3 separate regions of the Homo sapiens genome follow, and regions 2 and 3 are each linked to region 1. The links come from fine-mapping of genetic effects on gene expression. A gene starts in region 1. Each other region holds a variant in brackets. All regions are shown on one strand. Distances are from middle to middle. Region 1 holds the start of STX18-AS1 (STX18 antisense RNA 1 (head to head)). Region 2 has its middle 78 kb from the start of OTOP1. Region 3 overlaps LOC124900165.

The links. PIP is the estimated chance that this variant, and not a neighbour inherited with it, causes the effect.
Region 2: its variant is fine-mapped to the expression of STX18-AS1 in esophagus mucosa (GTEx, PIP 0.98).
Region 3: its variant is fine-mapped to the expression of STX18-AS1 in whole blood (INTERVAL, PIP 0.97). The same link has a PIP of 0.9 or more in prefrontal cortex.

Annotation. Positions count from the first base shown.
Region 1 is chr4:4,537,884-4,546,221 of GRCh38, reverse strand. It overlaps STX18-AS1 (STX18 antisense RNA 1 (head to head)), which reads right to left and starts at 4,091. Exons shown (of 6, transcript NR_037888.1): 1 at 3,747-4,091; 2 at 1,315-1,484. STX18 (syntaxin 18) reads left to right here and starts at 4,174. Exons shown (of 11, transcript NM_016930.4): 1 at 4,174-4,425. The coding sequence starts at 4,258. LOC124900165 reads right to left here and starts at 4,091. Exons shown (of 6, transcript XM_047416490.1): 1 at 3,747-4,091; 2 at 1,315-1,484. RefSeq lists enhancers at 4,006-4,300, 4,025-4,304.
Region 2 is chr4:4,144,744-4,153,081 of GRCh38, reverse strand. It overlaps the pseudogene UNC93B4. Among named protein-coding and RNA genes, the nearest start is that of OTOP1, 78 kb to the left of the region's middle. The variant C/G (reference allele first, on the strand shown) is at 3,573.
Region 3 is chr4:4,579,806-4,588,143 of GRCh38, reverse strand. All of the region lies in intron 2 of LOC124900165, which reads right to left. All of the region lies in intron 2 of STX18-AS1 (STX18 antisense RNA 1 (head to head)), which reads right to left. Among named protein-coding and RNA genes, the nearest start is that of LINC03091, 8.1 kb to the right of the region's middle. RefSeq lists an enhancer at 5,297-5,797. The variant A/G (reference allele first, on the strand shown) is at 4,717.

The DNA.
Region 1 (8,338 bases):
TCATTGAGTTTACCTCCTAACGTGAAGGTATATGTTTTTGAAGGCCTTTCCTCTTGTGTTATAAATTCTACCCTGCCATGGTCACAGTCTTCCAAGGTTTCTGCCACTCTGTCCCTGCCAGCCTGGTCTTTTCCATTGGTTAGGTTTAGGCACAACTGTTCTTTCCTCTCCATGCTTCATTCACTGAGGAATAATACTGTTACGATGGTGAGTGGAGAATACATCTAATATTCCTGTTTTGGTAGATACCTAGATATGGGTTGTCATCAATCAGGACAGGCTAATTATGCTGCAGTTAACAAACACCCACAAATCTGTGGACAATTCTCAATCTTAGTACATGTCTGTGATGGTTAATATTGAGTGTCAACTTGACTGAAGGATGCAAAGTATTGTTCCTGGGTGTGTCTGTGAGGGTGTTGCCAAAGGAGATTAACGTTTGAGTCAGTGAACTGGGAAAGGCAGACCCACTCTCAATCTAGGTGGGTACAATCTAATCAGCTGCCAGCATGGCCAGAAGAAAAGCAGGCAGAAGAACATGGAAAGACTAGACTGGCTTAGTCTTCTGGCCTACATCTTTCTCCCGTGCTGGATGCTTCCTGCCCTGGAACATCAGACTCCAAGTTCTTCAGCTTTGGGACTTGGACTGTCTCTCCTTGCTCCTCAGCTTGCAGATGGCCTATTGTGGGACCTCACCTTGTGATCATGTGAGTCAATACTCCTTAATAAGCTCCCCTTTATATATACACCTATCCTATTAGTTCTGTCCCTCTAGAGAACTCTGACTAATACAATGTCCTTGGTTGGCTATGCTCCATGTCATCTTTACTTAAGGACTCAGGCTGATGGAACATTGGAACATTAAGGGTTGTCATAGCAGAGGGAAAAGAGCATCGTGAATCATACATTAGCTCTTAAATTTGCTGCCCAGAAATTACACGTTGGTTTTCACTGGCAGCCTACATCTAGTCTCCTTGCATAGGTGTTGCTGCTGTAGTGAGCTATATTTAGGGGTGCCAATACAGTTGATCCTTGATGACTCCTCCACCCCTCACAGTTGGAAATTTGTGTATAACTTCTGACTCCCTAACATCTTAACTAATAATAGCCTACTGTTGACCAGAATCCTTATCAATAACATAAACAGTCCGTTAACACATATTTTGCATGTCATATGTATTAGATACTGTATTCTTTCAATAAAGTAAGCTAGAGAAAAGAAAATGGTATTAAGAAAATCATAGGAAGAGAAAATATATTTACTATCCATTAAATGGAAGTGGATCATCATAAAGTAAAGGTCTTCATACTCACCATCATCACATCGAGTAGGCTGAGGAGCAGGAGGGGTGGGTCTTGCTGTCTTAGGGATGGCAGAGGCAGAAGGAAGTCCGAGTATTAGTGGCCGCATGCAGTTCAAGCCTGTGCTGTTCAAAAGTCGACTGCGTATTTTTCAGAACAGTGTCTGGCCCACTCAATGTTTGCTGAATGCATAAAGAAAACAAAATTTGTATACTACATCCAACTGGGCAGTTGTGTGCTACCTCCAACAGGCCAGGCATGGTGGCACGCGCCTATAGTCCCAGATACTCAGGAGGCTGAGCCGGGAGGATTGTTTGAGCCCTGGAGTTGCAGTAGTATACTCTCACAACATTTCTGCACATCCTTTTAACCCACATCCCCTCTCAGCTTTATGGGGCTTAATATTAGTCAACTGTCAACTGAAGTCACTTTGCTCTTTTAAATTAAAGAGTAAACACAAAATGTAAAAAGCACAACCCCATATCCCATGGTCTGTGGAAAGTTCAGCAGCCTCCTCAAGATCTTTGTGACTTATTTAGGAATTTTATGTACTTGTGGTCACTTGTGGATTTACAGCCTGATGTTTTGAGCTCACTTGGGTCTTATATCCACCACAATCTTCTCTGCTCTTGCAAATCCAGACAGAAAACTTAGATCTTTGTCCCTACCCTTCTACCCAAAATATCCAACTGCACCAAACACACGGTTTACACAAGGCACCACTCACTGAAGGCTTGGTGTAGTTCAGCCTCCCTCCCACTCAAAGATCCTTCCCAGTTACCTACTTTGTACTTTCCCGGCCCCCTCCCTGGGTTCTGGCTTCTCTTTTCTTCCCCCCAATTCAATCCCCCTCACTTTATTATGCAGGGCAATCTCTCTTTCCTTCTACTCTACCCCAGGCTTAACTTTGCATGGCCAAAAACTGATTAATGTCTGGATTAAACAAAGGGCCATTTATGCAAGATAGAATCATTGGCAGAGATTTTGTAATTTCTTTCTCTTTTCCTCAGTAGGTGGAAGAAAGCTGTATGGAAATTTATTTTCCTTAAACTGCAAGAAGTGGCTACAGTTTGGGTTTAAATAATCTTTTCCTGGCCGGGCGCGGTGGCTCACGCCTGTAATCCCAGCATTTTGGGAGGCTGAGGCAGGCGGATCACGAGGTCAGGAGATCGAGACCATCCTGGCTAACACGGTGAAACCCCATCTCTACTAAAAATACAAAAGAATTAGCCAGGCGTGGCGGTGGGCGCCTGTAGTCCCAGCTACTCGGGAGACTGAGGCAGGAGAATGGCGTGAACCCGGGAGGCGGAGCTTGCTCCAGCCTGGGCGACAGAGCAAGACTCCGCCTCAAAGAAAAAAAAAATCTTTTCCTTCCTCCTTTCTGGTAAATATATACTTTCTTGACATCTATTTCTGATAAACTTTATTTTTTTAACACAGTGGTTCTCAAACTTTTGGTCTCAACTCTTTTGCACACTTAAAAATTATTAAGGGCTCTAAACAATTTTGGTTTATATTGACATTATCGACATTTACTATATGAGAAATCAAAACAAAAACTTGATGTTTTTGAAAGTCTTTTTTTGGAGTCTGGCTTAATAGAAAACAGCTGTTCTGCATTTACTCCGTTGCAATATCACAGTCTCCAGCAAACTCAACTGTATGCAACTCATAAGAAAATCAGAGCGAAAAGGCAAATAACATCTTAGTATTGTGAAAATTTTATCTTGATGACCATTAAAACTGCTGTTTTAATACATATTCTACTTGTGCTTCCTCTTTATGAAAAAAGAAATCTTGAAGAAATCAATGAGATTTTGAATTAAAACTGAACCATAGGCCAGGCACGGTTGCACGTGCCTATAGTCCCAGCTACTCAGGAGGCTGAGTCCGGGAGGATCGTTTGAGCCCTGGCGTTCCAGCTGTAGTGAGCTAGGATGGCGCCTCTGACTAGCCACTGCAATCCAGCCTGGGCAACATAGTAGACCCCCGTCTCAAAAAACAACACAAAACAGAACATGAACCTAAAATGCAGAAGAAACTCATTGATTGAGTTGTCAATTTTAATAGCTATGGCTCAAGACGGTACAATTAAAAACTATGCATGAAGGATGAAGAGAATCCAGCGGCATTAGGGCCACTCTTTCACCTTTGTCTCCATCTAAACTTCCTATTCATCCTTCAAATCTCTGCACAGGTGACGCCTTTTCTCTAAAGCCTCTTCCTTTACCACAAATAACAGTGATTATAATAATAACATTATTAACGATTACTACCATTTATTGGCCACTTACTAGGAGCCAAGCAACATCAAAACACAGCACGCGTCAGCTCACTTAATTTTCACAGTAAACCCCGAGGAGGATGCTGGCTTCACTTTAAAAAGAGGTGACTGAAGGTTGGAGAAGAAAGGCCTCTGGCCTCTAGCTCTGTGCCTTGCACACCTGATCTGTCTCAGCATTTATTGCATCCCGAGGGTCACCGTCCACGTGCCTCTATCCTGCTCAAGGTGAGTTCTTGCAGTCAAAGGTCAAGGGTGGCTCGTCTCCACTTCCCCCGCAACCAAACCGCCCGGTCTCAGTGAGGGAGCCGCCAGAAGGGAAGGAGCCTCCTAGCTTCCCGGTCCTCACGCTCCCGGAGCCCACACGCCCCAAACAGACACAGAAGAGCTCGCTGAGCTCTCCGCGCAGCTAAACCCTCCAAGCTTTGCTGGGAGAAACCGATGCCCGAGAGCGCGTCGCGAGGTTCCTCCTCCGCCAGGTGCGCCGGCTGAGGCCGGAACCTTTTTCCTCCCGCCGCGGTAGCAGGGCGCAGGCCGGAACCTTTCTTCTCGCGTCGCCGTTGCCGGGGGGAGGCGTGTGGGGCAGGACCAGTCCTTCAGCGGCCGGGTTCGCGCCGCGGTCGCCGGCTGCTTACGTGGGCGGGCCTAGTGTGGGGCTGAGGGTGCGGGTCGCTATGGCGGTGGACATCACGCTGCTATTCCGGGCCAGCGTCAAGACCGTGAAGACGCGGAACAAGGCGCTGGGAGTGGCGGTGGGCGGCGGGGTCGATGGCAGCCGGGACGAGCTGTTCCGCCGGAGCCCCCGGCCCAAGGGCGACTTCTCCAGCCGGGCCCGCGAAGTGGTGAGCTGGTTGCTATGGAAACGGCGGGTTGAGGAGGGGGCAGTCCTGCGACAGGGACCCCGGGCCCCAAACCAGACCCCGTCCCGTAAGCATTGTGTGAAGGGGGTGGCTCTAAGGGGGACAGAAGAGTTGGCCTCAGAGACCCTACAGCTTTTTGGGGGAAGGAACAGCCTTATTTTGAGGAAGGGGGACGCATATTGGGGAACAGATTTCTCCTGCGGCGACAGGGATTGGGGGACAAGAAAGGAGATCCTCAGAAATCTCTATCTGGAAAGTGCATGGGCGGCTTTGTGAGGTCATGAGTTCGCCGTCACTACAGACTTGCACTCAGGGGAAACCTCCTGACAGTCCTTCGCTTCCTGTTGCAGCACTGACCACACCATATTTGCCTGTTCTATTTACTTGTCTGCCTCCCACCCCTAGTTGAGATTAAAAACTGTATTCAGCCGAACTCTTTCTTCCCTTTGTCTCTGCAATAAGTAGGACTCAGTTCCTCTTGAGACGGGTTTAGGGTAATCTTTCGCAAACACAGTGTTACAGTCACCTCAACTACTTTCTGTTCCCTGATCAGAGCAGGTGTCCCTTCATCTCCCTGGGAACAGGAACCTTTTCCTTAAGGGCAGGGACAGTGTTGTTTTCATCTCAGAATGCATGACTCATAGCATTGCTTAGTAAATGTTTGTTGAATGAGTGAATGAACAAATGGCTGTCTTTCCCATTAAACAGAAAACTCCATAAGGGGAGAGCTGTTTGTCTTGTTCCCTTTTGTGTTCGTGACACCAAGGAGGTATCTAGGTTTTGTGGGGCCTACAGCTTATATAGTTCTGTCTGCCCTCTTCAAGAAATAAAAATCACCAAGAAAGATTCAGAGCTTTGGAAGATTGAAGAGAGGGACCCTAAAGCTTAAGCCTCATTAATTTCACAGTAAATCCTTCTCTGCTTGGCATACACTTGGCACTGTATAGACACTCAGATATTTTTGAATGAATGTAGTCATGCATGCATTAATGACAGTTAGCAGAGGATACTTAAACATTAGAAAGGGGATTGGACCAGATGAATACACTCGCCCTATTGATGACCGTCTATGAAGCACCTACCTTCTGACCAGCCTCGTGTTAGAGTAATATGATGTAAAAGCAGTGGTGGAGTAGACGGACATAGACATAAAACAAGTGCCATAAAGCCTTGCAGGTGTTGTGTAGGGCACAAAAAGAATGTGGTCAGTTCTACCTGAGGACCAGAAAAGGCTTTATAGAGGCGATGATGCCTAAAACAAATCTTGAAAGAGGATTAGTTGGTTCCAGTGCAGAAGGACATCTCAGGCTAAGAGAATAGTATGCGCTAAGCTGTGGAGGTAGGTAACAGTCTGACATAAGTTGGTTCAATAAACATTTGAGTGAGACTGGAATGTGGGACTCTCATAAAAATTGGACGCGGAGATCTTAAAGGGCTTTGTGTATCATTGCAGAGTTTGAATTTTGCCCTGTAGATGGTCAGATGTTATCTGGTAGAGAAAGCACCAGAGAAGGAGCCAAGAGACGAGGTTGTTGTCTGAACCCTGCAACTATTAGCTATATGATTTCATTAAGCAAGTTTTAAGACCTCAGTTTATTTACCTGTAAATGGTCCTTTTTTTCTCCTCCTCCTTTTAAAAAACTACCTTGGTCCTCTATATGTAACAAATTAAAGTGGGAGCTTCCTAGGTTGAAATAAGAGGAAGAGAAACAGGACACTCTCCCTCCCAGTTTGGCCCAAGCACTTCTTGAGATTCCTTTTGTAGAACTGTGGTATGAATATCACAGTATTGGCTTTTTAAGGGTCCCTTCTAACTCTGAAACCACTGATTTATTAACACTGTGCTAATTTTGAGTCCTGCTCAGGGAAAGGGGGGATTTGGGAATGGTAGAGACAGGAGGCACAGTTGGGTTGGCAAGCCCTTTGGAGAGCCCTGTGATCACTTCCACCTCTCCCTGAGTGGTGAAAATGTGTTTGAGTTTTGAGTTAATGGGCCTCAGGGACAGTAACAGTCCCATAGGGTGCTGAGTTCCCTGTCACTGGAAGTGATTAAACAGAGTGATGACTGCTTTTCAGAGATGTTTGAGAAAAGCTTTGTGCATATGTCACAGGGTTGGACCGCATGACAATGCAACTTGCAGTTCTGCTATGTATTGATGTGAGTAGGTGTCACATCACCTTAAGTGAGTTCATGGGCTGTGTTGTTCAGGGACACTGTCCCCCTGACGTAGAGGAAACATACATTCTTTTAAGCAATTTTGATTTTATGTTGTCATTGCTTTGTGTATTATCTCCTGTTCTTGCAACCGTTCCCCACTCCCCATCTTCTCTTGTGGGAAGTTTAACTAGAAGAGCTAGTGATGGATGTCCTGTGCTTTTACTACAATTAGATGTCAAAAGTTTGGCTGTTATTTTGTTTGGCCTGGATTCCTTATAGAGAAAAGTCTGGTAAATACCAGAAGCACATATTCTAATTCAGGTTTAGCCCTGGTTGTCAGACTTAATGAAATGTAATAAGTTATAGTATGCCTTTTGGTAAGTGCCTTCCTTGAAGCATTTGCTGTTACTTCTAGGATGCGTTTTATCTGGTTCAATTTCTATTCTTCCATTCCATTCCTCAAATATATGCCTGATGCCAGATTTCCATCTCACTGAATTGTTGTAGAGGTTATATTAAGTTGAATAAAATTGCATTGAAACTGCAATTTTATTGCAGTCCCTACCTTCCAACAACAGGCTGATTGCTTCTGCATCATTCTTTTAAACATTTAACTTTTATGCTCAATTTTACTAAATTTATATATACTCAAATGCATGTCTACCCATTAAATTACAAATGGAGAGTAACGACTTTTCAGATTATTTGGGGGAGGAACTTATATTATTCGAACAACTCCAAATAATAATGAATATGTCACTCTGCAATGGGAATTTGATTAGTTAACTCATTTGAAGTGTGGGACTAGTGAGGATGATGGGATTGGAAAGAGACCTGGGCCTTGGGTTCAAATCTCGCTTCTGCTACTTAGAAATGGGTGAACTTGGGCAAGTCTGACTCTCGTTTTCCATTTCTATAAAGTGGACGTGATAATACCCTACTTAACTCACAAGCTAAGTAGGGTAGCTTCTGAGTTACCCTACTCACATAGTCTATATGTATGTATTTTAAAAAAACAGACTGATTATTATTGTTCCCCCAAACTACCTCCCCCCTCCTCATGTAGGCCATTTAGACATATTTTCTTTAGTGGCACCAAGCTGTATTTTCCAAACCACTTAGTTTTCTTGCACTTTCATTCCTTAATTTAGTTAAGTGCGTGAGGAATGAGTGAAAATCCTGAGCAGGTACTGATGAATCAGCGGTGGTGCAGAAGTACTGTCTGCATTCGTAAAAGATGGTAACATTTCTTTGCCAAGGTGAAACTCTTTCAGTGATGGCAGATGTGTGGCAGGTATGCAGCTTTTACTTTCTTTTCTTCCTTGTGATCATGGAAGCCAGTGCTAATTTCTTAGTGGATCCCTATAGCTCAGAATCCTTTGCAACATTGTACCCCAGGAGCCGTTACCTGTTATTAGGCTTGACATTCAAGTTGAAATCTACTTGACATATAGTAACAGTAGAATCTGTATGCTTAAAGCAGACCCATGTTTGTTTGTTTGTGGTTTTTTTTTTTTTCACTCAAAAGGACCTTGTGTTCATTTTGTTAATAGATAAGAAAACTAACACCCAAATAAATGAAATTACTTGCCCAAAGTCGTAGCAGTTGAGGTCATAGCACAGAGCCATAAGTAGAAGCCAGGTCCTTTGACCTGGTTTAATGCTGCTCTCCCTCTGCCCACTACATTCTCCTGTAATTTTTAAACCAGAATTTGTTTGGTTTCTGAATGGCAGTGA
Region 2 (8,338 bases), 390 kb after region 1:
TGGACTGATGAATGAAAAAGCACACTGCAGTTCCTTCATATAATGGAAGACTATTCAGCCTTAAAAAGGCAGGCACTTCTGGCCAATGCGGTGGCTCACGCCTAAAATCGCAGCGTCTTGGAAGACCGAGGTGAGTGGATCACCTGAGGTCAGGAATTCAAGATCAACCTGGCCATCCTGGTGAAACCCTGTCTCTACTGAAAATGCAAAAAATCAGACGAGTGTGGTGGGGTGTGCCTATAGTACCAAGCACTCGGGAGGCTGAGGCACAAGAATGGCTGGAACCCGGGAGGCGGAGGTTGCAGTGAGCCCAGATTGTGGCGCTGCACTCCAGCCTGTGCGACAGAGTGAGACTCCATGGAAACACAAAACAAAACAAAGTCAAATGAGCAAACAAACAAACAAACAAACAAAAAACAGAGAGGCACTTCTGACGCAGGCCGCAACATGGATGAACCTTGAAAACATTATCGTCAGTGAAATAAATAAATCCCAAAAGGATAAACACGCCCAGTCTCTGTGGCTCGCACCTGTAACCCCAGCACTTGGGGAGGCTGAGCCAGGCGGATCACTTCAGATCAGGAGTTCGAGACCATCCTGGCCAATATGGTCTCTATTAAAAATACAAAAATTAGCTGGGCGTGGTAGCGCACGCCTGTAATCCCAGCTACTCGGGAGACTGAGACACAAGAATCGCTTGAACCCACGATGTGGAGGTTGCAGTGAGGCGACATCACGCCACTGCACTCCAGCCGGGGTGACAGAGAAAGACTCTGTCTCCAAAACAAAAAAATTAAACACGGTATGATTCCACTTATCTATCAAGTGTCTAGAGTAGTTAAACTCATAGAGTTGCAAACTAGAAAGGTGTCCCCCAGGGGTGGGTGAGAGAGAGGAGTGGAGAGCTTGGTGAAAGGGTGCAATTTCCATTTTGAAAGATAAAACTGTTCCGGAGACGATGGCGGTGATGGTTGCTAAACAATGTGAACGTACTTAATGTCATGAAACTGTAAACTGAAAAAGCGTGGAAACTAAATGTTTATACTGGCCATTCTATATAAACTAATATATATTTATAATTTTTAATATTTATATGTGGTATATTTTCCCATAATAAAAGATGAAAATTAAAGCAGTTGGATGTTTAAAAAGAAAAGAAAGAAGTGAAGAATACACACCAGCTTTCTCCTGATTAGAGGAAGAGCCCCAAAGCTTCTATGGACACTCACTTTTCTCTTCTTCTTCTTGCATTATTATGAGGAAATCTTTAGAGGTTGGGGAACTTGGGTGACTTTGGCTAATAAGGAGCTCTGTGCCTTGAGCACCCCAGGCCACAGAATAGTAAATAGTCAGTCTGTGCCTCCAGCCCTGCAGTGTGAGGTTCCAGTCCTGTGGGCTCCACTCCCGTCACCAGTATCAGGAGGCTCATGTCTCAACCTGTCTTCTTGCCAGCCTTGAGGCCGGAGTCTGAGCCTCCATGGTGCACCACACAGGGAGGACAGTGGACCTGTTCTCCGTGGTCATGGCCCAGCAGATGGGAAGGGCAGTTCAGTGAGTGTAGGCAAAAGAAAGAGCAATCAGACTGTTACTGTGTCTATGTAGAAAGGAAAGACATAAGAGACTCCATTTTGAGAAAGACCTGTACTTTCAACAATTGCTTTGCTGAGATGTTGTTAATGTGTAGCTTTGCCCCAGCCACTTTGACCCAACCTGAAGCTCACAAAAGCATGTGTTGTATGAAATCAAGGTTTAAGGGATCTAGGGCTGTGCAGGACGTGCCTTGTTAACAAGATGTTTCCAAGCAGTATACTTGGTAAAAGTCATCGCCATTTTCTAGTCTCAATAAACCAGGGGCACAATACACTGTGGAAAGCCACAGGGAGCCCTGCCCTTGAAAGAGGGGTATTGTCCAAGATTTCTCCCCATGTGATAGTCTGAAAAGTGGCCTCGTGGGAGGAGAAAGACCTGACCGTCCCCGAGCCCGACACCAGTAAAGGGTCTGTGCTGAGGTGGATTAGTCAAAGAGGAAAGCCTCTTGCAGTTGAGAGAGAGAAAGGCCACTGTCTCCTGCCTGCCCCTGGGAACTGAATGTCTCGGTATAAAACCCGATTATACATTTGTTCAATTCTGAGATGGGGGTAAAACTGCCCTATGGCTGGAGGTGAGACATGTTTGCAGCAATGCTGCCTTGTTATTCTTTACTCCACTGAGATGTTTGGGTGGAGAGAAACATCAATCTGGCTTACGTACACGTCCAGTCATAGTACCTTCCCTTGAACTTCCTTATGACATAGATTCTATTGCTCACCTCTTCGTTGCTGACCTTGTCCTTATTATCACCCTGCCCTCCTACTACATTCCTTTTTGCTAAAATAATAAAAATAATAATCAATAAAAACAGAGGGAACTCAGAGGCCTGTGCCAGTGCAGGTCCTTCGTATGCTGAGCGCCGGTCCCCTAGGCTCACTGTTGTTTCTCCATACTTTGTCTCTGTGTCTTATTTCTTTTCTCAGTCTCTCATCCCACCCGACTAGAAATACCCACAGGTGTGGAGGGACGGGCCACACCTTCAAGTGAGTGCTGAGGGACGGTTGGGAGCCTTGTTTTGTTTCCTCCTCAGGACAAACAGGAGAGTGCGGTGGGCAGATGGGAGGAGACCAATGTGCAAACTATCCGCTCAGCAGAGTGTGGAGTTTCTGTTCCTGGTTGTGCTGGGGATCTCAGAAATCTACTTCAAAATTTTGCTACCCTCCCCCACTGGTTGTCCTTTTCATAGACATCTCACCCACGGTAGCAGGGAATGAGTCCCTCTAAACTATTCCCTCAGGAATAGTAAAAGCCAGCCCCTCTTCCCCCCTTGTCTCTTAGGACCCCCATCGCAGGGGGGTGAGGCACCCATCGCGATGCGGGGAGTAAGAGCCTGCCCCTCTTCCCCCCGTGGTTTTTAGGATCGGCGGTGGACTCACAGCCTGTTTACCACATTGTGAGTAATATCATCTCCCCTCTGGAAATTGTGATCTATTTCACAGACGGGTGTACACCCGTCTGTATTGGGAGTAATATCATCCTCTTCCTCCCTGAATATTAAGAACAGTATCACAGGGGTATTTCTACTCCCTGCGTTATTCGGTGTCATATCCTCCTCTCCCACGTTGCAATTAGAGACAATATCAGTGGGGGCGTGTCCACCTTCTGTGATATTTAAAGTAATGTCATCCTCTTCCCTCCAGGATCATGGGAACAATATCCCTGGGGGGTGTCCACTTTCTGCGATATATGTAGTCATATCACCCCCTACGCCTTTGAATATTACGAAGGACCATCTCACACGGGGGTGTACACTTCCTGCGATATTGGGAGTAATATCAACCTCTCGGCCTCTGAATATGAGGAAGAAAATCACAGGGTGGGTGTACACCTCCTGCTCTATTATGGGGAGTCATATCTATCTGTTATGGAGAGTAATATCATCCTCTCCCTTTCAGGATATTAATAACAATATCACAGGGTGGGTGAACACAGCCTGCGATGCTGGAATTATTATCACCCTCTCCTCCTCGGGATACTAGGAA[C/G]AATATCACAGAAGAGGTGTACACTCCCTGCGATACTGGGAGTAATATCATATGCTTCTTCCGTGAATATTAGGAGCAATATCACCGGGTGGCTGTACATTCATTGCTATGTTGGCAGTCATGTCATACTCCACCCGCTGGATATTAGGATCAGTGTCACAGGGTGAGTGTACACCTATTGCGATATGAAAACTAATATCATGCTCTCCATCCCTGGATATTAGGAACAATATCGCAGGTAGGTGTACACCCCCTGCTGTATTAGGAGTAATAATACTATGAATTATTAAACATCAGTCTCATTAATGATTATCAATGGTAATATTAATTAATAGTATAATTTTATTAGTCATTAATGATTATTTTAAAGATATGATTATGCATGATTAAAATTAATTCTTACTATGAATGTCATTTTTAATATTAGTTATTAATATTAATATTAATCATTGTTTTATTACCAACATCACTTATGATGGATTTAAGTAACATTAATTAGTGATATCATTATTTTATTATTAATATTGATATTGCTGTTAATTATTAATTGTAATCATTAATATTTTTATCCACATTAAGGTTTACTGTCTCCACTGTAGTTATTAATATCAATGATTACTATTAATTGTTATTATATTTATTAATATTAATAATTAATAAAACTGTTCCTGATATCTGTGGGGGAGAGGATATGACTCCCAATATCGCAGAAAGCGTTACACTCCTCTACGATGTTACTCCTAATAGCCAGGGGGTAGAGAATGACATTATGGAAAATATCGCAGTGGGTGTACATCCCTTCGGTCATCTTGTTCCTAATATCCTGGGTGGGAGCGGATGTTACGACTCCCAAAATCGCAGTGGGCGGAGACCTCCCCCGTGATACTGTTCCGAACATCCAAAGGTGGAGAGGATATTTCTTCCAATTTCGCCGGGGGTGCTCACCACCCCTGTGATATTGATCCTAATATCCAGGGGGCGAGAGGATGATATTAGTCTGAATATTGCAGGAGGTGTACACTCCCTAGGGTTATTGTTCCTTATATCCAGGGACAGAGAGGATGATATCACTCCCAATATAGCAGGGGGTGTACACCCCTTGTGTAACATTGTTCCTAATAGGCAGCGGGGGAGAGGAGGATATTACCCCCAATATCGCAGGGGGTGTACACCCCCTTGTGACATTCTTCCTTCTATCCTGGGAGGGAGAGGAAGAAACTAGCGGCAATGTCGCAGGGGCTGTACACACCCACTGTGATATTGTTCCGAATATCCGGAGGGGGAGAAAATGATGTTACTTCCAATATCGCAGGGGGTGTACATGTTCCTGAGATATTGTTTCTTAGGTTCAGGCGGAGAGGATGATATTACTGCCAATATCGCAGGGGTTGTACACACTTCCCGCGATGCGGGGAATAAGAGCCAGCCCCTCTTCCCCTCCTGGCTCTTAGGACCCCCATTGCAGGGGGTTGAGGCACCCCCGGCCATGCGGGGAGTAAGAGCCAGTCCCTCTTCCCCCCACTGGCTCTTAGGACCCCCATCGCAGGGAGGTGAGGCACCCCCCGCGATGCGGGGAGTACAAGCCAGCCCCTCTCCCCCCTGGCTCTTAGGACCCCCATCGCAGGGGGGTGAGGCACCCCCCGCGATGTGGGGAGGGCTGAGACTGGGGTCTGGGCTGTTCCGGACTTCAACACTCACCCCTTGTCCCCCCGCAGGGCTATGGCGTGTGCTCGGTGGGGCTGGAGCGGCTGGCTTACGTCTTCGTGGCTTACAGCCTGGGCGCCTCAGCCGCCTCACTCCTGGGCCTGCTGGGCCTGTGGCTGCCACGCCCAGTGCCCCTCGTGGCTGCAGCAGGGGTGCACCTGCTGCTCACCTTCATCCTCTTTTTCTGGGCCCCTGTGCCTCGGGTCCTGCAACACAGCTGGATCCTCTGTGTGGCAGCTGCCCTTTGGGGCGTGGGCAGCACCCTGAACAAGACTGAACTCAGCAGTGAGTATAGCTGTGGGCACTGGGGGGGGGGGGGGGCGGGGCAGGATGCTTTATGGCTATCTGTGGGTGGTTGGCTAGACATAGACATCCCAGGGACAGATATGGGGTCCCATGGTCACATAGGGTCCTGTGGACATGGCAGAGGCAGGTGGGGCTTCCTGTGGACACTCCGGGGGTGGAAGGGAAGTTTCATGGACACACTGGGGGCAGATGGGTAGGGCGTGGACAGCCTGGAGACAGGTGTGGGGGTTCCACGCCATGGACATTCCGTTAATACCCCAGGGCGGGCACAGGGCCCCATCAACACTGGAGGGTCAGTGTGAAATCTCTTGGCTACAGGGGGCAGGTGTGGGGCTCTGTGGACACCCCTTAGGGATAGTGTGAAAAACACATCAGGGATTCTCCCTTTTCATACCAGGGGACAGGGCTTACCTGGCATAGTTTTCGTGACACTTGGAGCAGATGTTTTGGTCTCTGCCTCACGGAGCATGTGGTAGGAGCAAGTGGCCTGTTGTACATCCACGGCATAGATACAGACATGGGCCTTTGCATAGAGAGGAGCAGGCCTGCAGCCCCAACCCAGTCTGCTCAGTACCAGAGTCCAGGCACCAGGTCTGGGCTGCTGGGGAACAGGGCCCTGTTTGCAGAAGGCAGCGGGTGGGCCCATGTTCAGCTCCAGGATGCTCCCTGCCCACAGATGGGCACACGCAGTGACACACAGCTAGCACACATAGGCACAGTCCTGCGGGACATCCATGTCAGTGTCTGTTCTGATGGGCCGAATCTAAGAACAGGTTTGAACGTCATCCTTGGGGGTGTGGAGTGGCAGAGGTCATGCCTGCTCCTGGCAGGGCAGAGGGTGGCTCGGTGTCTCTGTCTGTAGCAGGGGCTGGAGCCTCATACTGCACCACAGTCTCTTGGCCGTTTTGCCCAAGGATAGCCAATTCTGGGCCGAGTCCATCCTGGGTATCTTGGACCCATGTTGTGCCCTCTCTGGTCATGGCATCCCCTCTGCCCAGCTCCATATCCCATCTCCTCTGGTGAACCCTGGGGGATCCTTATCTCTTCATAGCAGCACTGTGGGGGTAAAGTCACCCTGCAGGGCCCCAAGACAGGAGTGTTCATGTCCTGAGTGCCTGGTGAAGGTGTTAATAGTGGCCCCTATGATTTGGCAGGTGCCATGCCCACTTTCTCACTTTAGAACTTCAGAACACAGCACACAATAGGCATAGGCTCATGTCACCATTGGGAAAAGCAGCTCTGGGGAGTTAAGTACCCAAATCACCCACGGAGACAACATTACAGTCCTGAGAACGAGTGTGCATCTTCTGACTCCCAATCCATTACTCTTGTTGCCCACCCTGGGAGGACTCACTGGAAGGGAAGCCCCCCTTTCCATGCTTAGCTTCAGGTTTGATTTGCAGAGTTGGCAGCTGCAAACAGTTCGATCTCTCTAGTCCCGGCTGAGAAGGAGAAACAGCGCCTGCAAGCTTGGCACTGCACACCTGGGGTTGGGGACAGGACATGACTAAGCACAGAGCTTTCTTCTTTTGAGGCCACGCATGTGGTGCGGAGCGGGACCACCTGCATCCACACAGCCCGGCGCACCTGCTCCTACTTCTGCTTAGCGTATGAGCAGTGTGGTGACCAGGGTCTCCACCAGGGGGCAGGCCAGGACCGGCTCACAGCACTTTCTAGGTGCTCTCTGGTCCCGGGCTGGGACACATACAGGGCTTAATAAAGTTCATAGATGGTAGCTAGGCATCCCCAGGCCCCAGGTGACACCTATCCCCTGACTGCCCTGCACTGCCTGCCTGCAGCACTCCTGGGAATCTTGTAAGAAGACAAGGAGAGACAGGACTTCATCTTCACATCTACCACTGGTGGCAGGCTGTGGCCATCTTCCCCGTGTACCTGGGCTCGAGCCTGCACATGAAGGTGAGACTGGGCAGGGTTGGGGGCCCCATGCCCAGTGACAGGTACTTCCTTAGCCCCTGCCCTGGCTGCACAGCTTCCTAAACGCCACCCCTTCCCAAGCCAGTCTCTGGGCCAAGGCCCCATTCCTGCAGCCCACTGGGTGGCCCCCAACTCAGCACCCCACTTACTGGCCCACCTCCAGCCAGTCTCAGTTTGCCCATCTCTGAGGGGATTTGTGGGTGCATCACAGCCATCCTGTGGGCTGTTTGGTACCCTGTTGTCCAGATGTTGGGTCTGTCTCCCTTCATGGCCTGAAGGGGAGCAGGCTCCTCATGCTCTGCTCCCAAAAGATGGTGGCTCGGTCTAGCAAGTCCCAGTTGCTAAACATTTTTTAAAAATAGAACTAAAGGCTGGGCACGGTGGCTCACGCCTGTAATCCCAGCACTTTGGGAGGCCGAGGCGAGTGGATTGCCTGAGGTAGGGAGTTTGAAACCAGCATGACCGACATGGTGAAACCTCGTCTCTTCTAAAAATACAAAAATTATCCGGGCGTGGTGGCAGATGGCTGTAATCACAGCTACTCGGGAGGCTGAGGCAGGAGAATCGCTTGAACTGGGAGGCAGAGGTTGCAGTTAGCCGAGACGGGGCCTTGGCACTCCATCCAGCCTAAGCAACAAGAGCGAAACTCCGTCTCAAAAAATGAAAATAAAAATAGAACTAAAAATAGCAGGGAGTGGGCTGGGAGCAGTGGCTCATGCCTGTAATCCCAGCATTTTGAGACGCTGAGGTGGCTGTATCACCTGAAGTCTGGAGTTCGAGACCAGCCTGGGTAACAGGCTGTGAAACCCTGTCTCTACTAA
Region 3 (8,338 bases), 42 kb before region 1:
GTGTCCATGTGTTCTTATTGTTCAACTCCTACTTATAAGTGAGAACATGCGGTGTTTGGTTTTCTGTTCCTGTGTTAGTTTGCTGAGGATGATGGCTTCCAGCTCCATCCATGTCCCTGCAAAGGACATGATCTCATTCCTTTTTATGGCTGCATAGTATTCCATGGTGTATATGTACCACATTTTCTTTATCCAGTCTATCAATTGATGGGCATTTGGGTTGGTTCTATGTCTGCTATTGTAAATAGTGCTGCAATAAACATACATGTGCATGTGTCTTTATAGTAGAATGATTTATATTCCTTTTGGCATATATACCCAGTAATGGGATTGCTAGGTCAAATGGTATTTCTGGTTCTATATCCTGAGGAATTGCCACACTGTCTTCCACAATGGTTGAACTAATTTACATTCCCACCAACAGCCTCACCAGCATCTATTGTTTCCTGACTTTTTAATAATTGCCATTCCAACTGGCATGAGATGGTATCTCACTGTCGTTTTAGTTTGCAGTTCTCTAACTATCAGTGATGTTGAACTTCTTTTCATGTGTTTGCTGGCTCATAAATGTCTTCTTTTGAGAAGTGTCTGTTCATATCCTTTGCCCACTTTTTGATGGGGTTGTTTGTTTTTTCTTGTAAATTTGTTTAAGTTTCTTGTAAATTCTGGATATTAGACATTTGTCAGATGGGTAGATTGCAAACATTTTCTCCCATTCTGTAGGTTGCCTGTTCACTCTGATGCTAGTTTCTTTTGTTGTGCAAAAGCTCTTTAGATTAATTAGATCCCATTTATCAATTCTGGCTTTTGTTGCAATTGCTTTTGGCGTTTTCCTCACGAAGTCTTTGCCCATCCCTATGATTGCCTAGGTTTTCTTCTAGGGTTTTTATGGTTTTGGGTTTTACATTTAAATCGTTAATCCATCTTGAGTTAATTTTTGTAGAAGGTTTAAGGAAGGGGTCCAGTTTCAATTTTCTGCATATGGCTAGCCAGTTTTCCCAGTACCATGTATTAAATAGGAGGTCCTTTCTCCATTGCTTGTTTTTGTCAGACTTGTCAAAGAACAGATGGTTGTAGATGTGTGATGTTCCTTTTGAGGCCTCTGTTCTGTTCCATTGGCCTATATGTCTGTTTTGGTACCAATACCATGCTGCTTTGGATACTGTAGCTTTGTAGTATAGTTTGAAGTCAGATAGCATGAGGCCTCCAGCTTTGTTCTTTTTGCTTAAGATTGTCTTGGCTATACAGGATCTATTTTGGTTCCATATGAAATGGCCTCTTCTTATAAAAGCATCAATCTCATTTATCAGGGCTCTACCCTCATGACCTAATCACTTCCCAAAGGCCTGATTTCCAAATACTATCATATTGGGATTAAGATTTCAATATAGAAATTTTGGAGGTAACACGAACATTAGTCCACTGCATTCTGTTCCAAACCCCGCAAAGATCATATCCTTCTCACATGTAAAATATATTCATTCCATCCCCAAAGCCCTCAAAGTTTTAACTCATTCTAGCATCATCAACTCCAAACTCTTATCTAAGTATCATCTAAATCAGATAAGGTGAGACTCAGAGTACAATTCATTCTGAGGCAAAATTCACAGCTGCAAACATGTGAAACCAAACATGTTTTCAAAATACAGTGGTGAGACAGACATAGATAGACATTCCCATTCTGACACGGAGAAATAGAAAAGAAAGAAGGGTTAACAGATCCCAAGGGAGTCCCAAACCTCACAAGACAACTTTCACCAGGTCTTCAGGCTGAAGATAATCCTCTGTGGCTTGATGCTCTCCCCTCTAGGGCCACTGGACACACTGGGGCAGAGGTACAGTCTTGCAGACCCACTTGGGAGGTGGTCTTCTCCAAAAAGCTCTGCTGGACAGGACTTGCAGCTCCAGGGCTCTGCCAGGAGGTGGTATCCCCAACAGCTTTGGGTGGAGCTCATTTCTGTTGAAAGCAAGGCAATGGTCCCTCCTTTTGAAACTAAGAAGGTAACCTACTGACCTCTGCATTGCCCTTGGGTTCATTCTTCCCCTTGTCTTTAACAAGAGCACACATTCACAACTGAATAGCTCTATAGTCCTGTCCTGTAAAATCCAAAAAGTCCAACAACTTTCCTTCATTCTTTACCATCCCCTTCCTATTTAGTTCAAACTGACAGTTGTCCTGCTGGGAAACCGCTGGTTGATTAAGTCCATGGTTCACACCTATACTGACCTCCATATCAAATGGTCAGTTAGCCACACCCTTAGTGTTATTTTCCAAACACACTTTCTCCATTTTTGCAATATGAGTAGGCTGAGAATTTTCCACATCTTTAAGTTCTAGTTCCTTTTGCTCGATAATTCCATCTTCAAGCCATTTCCATCTTCTTATGTTTTGCCTTAAGTGGTCAGAAGGAAGCCAGTGACTTCTTCAACACTTGGCTTAGAAATCTCCTCTGCTAAATATCCACTTTCACTGCTCACGAGTTTTATCTTCCACAAAAATACTAGAATGCAAAGACAATTCAGCCAAGGTTTTTTGCCACTTTATAACAAGGATTGCCTTTTTTCCATTGTCTAACAATTTGTTCCTCATTCCTGTCAGACACCTCATCAGAATGGCCTTTATTAGCCATATTTCCACCAACATTCTGTACACGATTATTTATGTATTCTCTAAGAAGACAGAAGCTTTCTCAATACCTCTCATCTTTCCTTTCTGAATCATCTTTAAAAGTACTTTTGGCCAGGCACAGTGGCCAAAAGTGCTGTAATTCCAGCACTTTGAGAGGCCAAGGCAGGAGAATAGTTGAGCTCAGGAGTTGAAGACCAGCCTGGGCAACATAGCAAGACCATCTATCTACTAAAAATCAAAAAAATTAGTCAGGTGTGATGGCACACATCAGTAGCCCTAGCCACTGGGGAGGCGGAGGCAGTAGGATTACTTGAGCCCAGGAAGTCAAGGCTGCAGTGAGCCATGATTGCACCACTGCTCTCCAGCCTGAGTGACAAAGCAAGATCCTGTTTTTATGTTTTTTGTTTTTTGTTTTTAGTGACAATTTTGACCTTTCCTAGTATGCACTTCAAAAGTCTTAACAATTTTGACCTCTCCTAGTGGGCACTTCAAAACTCTTCCAGCTTCTACCCATTACCCAAAACTGCTTCCACATTTTTAGGTATTTGTTATAGGAGGCACCCCCACTTTTTGGTACCAGTTTTGGTCTTCATCAGTTTAAGCTGCTATAACAAAATATCACAGACTGGCTGGCTTATAGATAACAGAAATTCATTTCTCACAAGTCTGGAAGATGGAAAGCTGAGATCAGGTTGCCAGCATGGTGTGGTTCTGATGAGGACCCTCTTTTGTGCTGCAGACTGGAAAAATTAGAGTTTGGAGTAAAAAGTGGCCATGACATAAGGGACTAGATACCAGATGACGGGGAACCACAGAGAAGTGAGTCCTACAGTCTGTATATGATTTCTCCCCAAGAGAAATCCTGTGTAATCACAGAAAGAGGCCCAGAGAACCCCACTATAAAGCAACTTCTAAAGCTAAAAGATGAGCAGAGAACATGGCAGTCTCATGGGGTTGGGGAAATAAAAACTGGAGTTCACAGCAAGTTAAGGATTAGGGCTCCCAACAAACACCTCAAGCTTTCCACCGAAACCCTAAAAAGGGTTAGAATAAGAGGAAATGTGAAACAGGCCAGCTGTGACTAGATAAAGATGATTTGGCCATACTCTATGTGCCAATAAGAAGAAAATTAAACCCTTTCTGAAAGAATATAACACCAACCATAAGCTCTATAACTTTTCATATGCAATTTTCAGCCTGCAATAAAAAATTACCAGGCAGGACAGGCAACATGATTAAATGCTGAAAATCAAGAGAAAAATGGAGAGTAAAAACAGACAGCAGAAGAACCAGGTATTGAACTTTCCAGACATAAACTTTAAAATAGCCATGATTACAATGCCAAAAGACAGGCAGAGTGGTGGAGAAAATCCCCAGAAACTGGCATCTATTTAAAAATAGCCAATTGGAAATCCTAAAATTGAAAAATATACAATAGAAAGTAAAATTTTAATTGTTAGCTCAGTATACCTATCAGAAGAGAGAACAAGTGAACCAGAAAATAGAAATATAAAAATATTCAAACTAAAGCAGAGAGAAAAAGGATAAAAATACAGAAAATTAGACATATATATGGGACCAAGTAGAAGATATTTAACAACATGTAATTGGAGGCACAAGAATACAGGAGAGAAAAAATGGAGCAGTTGGTGGCGAATTGCACGTGTCAACTTGACTAGATTGTGGTGATTCATTGTTTGGTGCTGGGTTCTGAATGTCTGTGTCCTCCCACAAAATTCATGTGTTGAAACCGAAGCCCCAAGGTGATAGTATTAGGAAGTGAAGGCTTTGGGAGGTGATTAGATCACAAAGGTAAAGCCCAGATGTGGAGTAAAAGGGGAAGAAAGGTGGGTAGGATCTGAAAACTGTTAGCATGAAACATAAAAATATATAGTCTGGGCTGGGCGCAGTGGCTCATGCCTATAATCCCAGCACTTTGGGAGGCCAAGGCAAGTGGATAACCTGAGGTCAGGAATTCGAAACCAGCCTGGCCAACATAGTAAAACTCCGTCTGGGTAGCTGATGGGATGGTGCCCACCCAGAGTGAGGGTGGGTCTGCCTCTCCCAGCCCGCTGACTCGAATGTCA[A/G]TCTCCTCTGGCAACGCCCTCACAGACACGCCCACAAACAATACTTTACCAGCTATCTAGGCATCCCTCAATCCAATCAAGTTGACACCTAATATTAACCATCACACCAATTAAAAATAAAATAAAGGTAAAATGAAGATACTTCAGGCAAGAAAAAACTTTGAAAATGCATTGCCAGTAGACCAACACTAAAAGAAGTATTAAAGGAAATGATTCAAGATAGAAACACGAAAAGGTAGAAATAAATGAGGAGTGCTGGGAATGGTAAATATATTGGTATATGGGTAAATATAAGTAAATTCTGACAACTTAAACCAAAAGTAACAATGTTCTCAGGAAATTAAAATATATGTAGAATTAAATACATGATAACGTAGCACAAAAAGCAGAAGGAGAGAAATGGACTAATGGTGTTGTACTAACAACACTTGCCATGGTAACATCCAAAACTAAACAGAATGTAACAAGCCAACAATGAGTATTCTACTCTCTAGGGCAGGGGTTCCCAACCTCTGGGCCATGGACAGGTAGCAGTCTGTGGCCTGTTAGGAACCAGGCCGCACAGCAGGAGGTGAGTGAGGGGTGAGCGAGCATTGCCGCCTGAGCTCCGCCTCCTGTCAGATCAGCAGCTGCATTAGATTCTCATAGGAGCGCCAACCCTATCGTGAGCTGCACATTCCAGGGATCTAGGTTGCAGGCTCTTTATGAGAATCTAACAATGCCTGATGACCTGAGCTGGAACAGTTTCATCCCAAAACCATTCCCCTGCCCCCGATCCATGAAAAAAATTGTCTTCCATTAAACTGGTCCCTGGTGCGGAAAAGATTGGGGACCGCTGCTCTACGGGAACAGGTACAGGAATAATACAGAATGCATAACGAATAAGTTAGCAGGGTGGGGAAAATGGAATAATTTTCAAAATTTTTTTAGCAATCCAAAAATTATCAGATATCTAAAATAGTAAAACCCAATTACATTGTGATTATATGAAACATTTACCTTAAAGATAAGGAGTCTGAAAAACTGAAATTAAAAGGACAGGAAAAGCTGATACATAACTACATTAACATATACTTAATAACAACACTACATAATTATAACACATACATATGTAGTTATATAACATATAAAGACAATACATTCTGTAAGGCAAGATTTGTTACTAGAGATATTTTATAATATCAAAAAGTCATTTAATAAGATAATAATTTAAAATTTGCATGCAGCAAAAAACATAGCCTCAAAGAAAGTGGGACAAAAGGAGAAACAGTCAAATCCATTATCCTAGTGGAGATTTTAAAATACATCTCTCAGTTATTGAAAGAAAAAGCAGAGAGAAATTCAGTAAAGATATAAAAGATTTTAACATGATTAATGAACTGGAGCCAATAAAAATAAATAGAGCTGGCCGAGCACGGTGGCTCACACCTATAATCCCAGCTCTTTGGGAGGCTGAGGCAGGTGGATCACCTGAGGTCAGGAGTTTGAGACGAGCCTGGCCAACATGGTGAAACACTGTCTCTACTAATAATATAAAAATTAGCCAGGTATGGCGGCACGTGCCTGTAATCCCAGCTACTGGGGAGGCTAAGGCAGGAGAATCACTTGAACCCAGGAGACAGAGGTTGCAGTGAGCCGAGATCATGTCGTTGCACTCTAGTCTGGGCAACAGAATGAGACCCTGTCTCAAAAAAAAAAAAAAAAAAAAAAAGGCAATGCAACCAACAGCTGCAGTTTACATATTCCCTTTTTTTTTTTTTTTTTGAGACAGGGTCTCACTCTGTTGCCCAGGCTAGAGTGCAGTGGCACAACCGTGGCTCACAGCAGCCTCAATCTCTGAGGCTCAAGCTATCCCCGCAACCTCAGGACCATAGATGTGCATCACCATGCCCAGCTATTTTTTTTTAAATTTTTTGTAGAAATGGAGTCTCACTATGTTGCTCAAACTGGTCTCAAACTCCTGGGCTCAAGTGATCCTCCTGCCTGGGCCTCTCAAAGTGCTGGGATTACAGGCGAGAGCCACCATGCCCAGCCAATCTCAATGAGTTTGAAAGGTTTATCATCATACAGTTATACTCTCTGATCATAGTGAAATTAAGCTAGAAATCAATAATAACATAACTAGGAAAACTCTAAATATTTATATTTATGTGTGTATAGCAGCATAAATCATGATAGCCAAAACCGGAAGCAAACCACATGCCATTCAACTGGAGAAGAAATAAACAAGCTGTGGCATATCCATACAATGGAATACAGGGCAGCAAGAAGAAAGAGCACATGACTACTATACACGGCTACAGGGAGGAGTCTTGCACGCACATTGTTGAATGAAGGAAGCCAGATATAAAAGACAGCTTACTCTATGGTTTCATTTATATAAAATCCAAAAATGAGCAAAACTAATATACAGCAACTGCAGTACAAATAGCGGTTCCCTTTCTTAGGGGATAATGACAGGAGGCACATAGGAGGGGGACTTCAGGGCATCTATCAGGCTTCATATCTTGATCTGAGTGGTGGTTCCAAGGGGATATTCATCATTTTGTAAAAGTTCTTAGTGCTGGGCACTTGAGTTATGCAAATTGCTGGATACAAGTTCTACTTTCAGAAGAAGTTTGCCCCTCGCCAAAACAAGAAACTTCATTCATAGGCTGGTTAAATAGCCAGATCTGGAGTCAGGCAGCCTGAGCTCAAATCCTGGCTCAACTGTTTACACTCTGTGTGTCCTTAGACTATGTAGCTTCTCTACGCCTCAGTTTCCTCATCTGCAAAATGGGGATATCACCAGTACTTAAGCCTAAGGTTGTTTTGTGGACTTATGAGTTGATCCATGCAAAGTACTTACCATAGTATCAAATATATAGTAAGATCTCAACTTACATTGCTCTTTTTAAAAAAGATCTTTGCAACCAACCTAGAGGGCCACACAACGTTGGGAGTAAAAGCAAGGACTTTATACCCTTGGACATTTTTCCCAGAAAAGTAAAAACTTTTGTTTGCACAAACACCTGTACGTGAATGTTCACAGCAGCATTTCTCATAATGGCCAGAAACTGGACACAGATATTCTTCAGTGGGTAAATGGTTAAAGAAACTGTGGTACTTCTATGCCATGGAACACCACTCAGTTAAAATTAAAAAAAAAAACAAAACACTACTGATGCATGCCATAACTCAGTGACTCTCAAGAGAATTAGACTGAGTCAAAAAGCCAATCCCAGAAGCATATACTTCCACTTACAGAACATTCTCGAAATAATGAAATTATAGAGATAGAGAACAGGTTTAGTGTTACAAGAATGAGGGATGCTGGGTGACATGGAGAAGTAGATGTGATTATTAAAGGCTGCAGAAGCCTGTGCTGACAGAGCTGTTGTGTATCTTGACTGTGGCGCTACATACATGGACCTACATACATGTTAAAATTGCAAAGAACTAAATACACTCACATGAGGACAAGTAAAACTGAGGAAATCTGAATAAGGCTGGTGGATTTTATCAGTGTCAATATCTTTGTTATGATATTGTAGTACAGTTTTGCAAGATGCTCCCTTTGGAGAAAACTGGATAAGAGTTACACAAATCTCTCTGTATTACTTCTTACAACTGTGCGTTCATC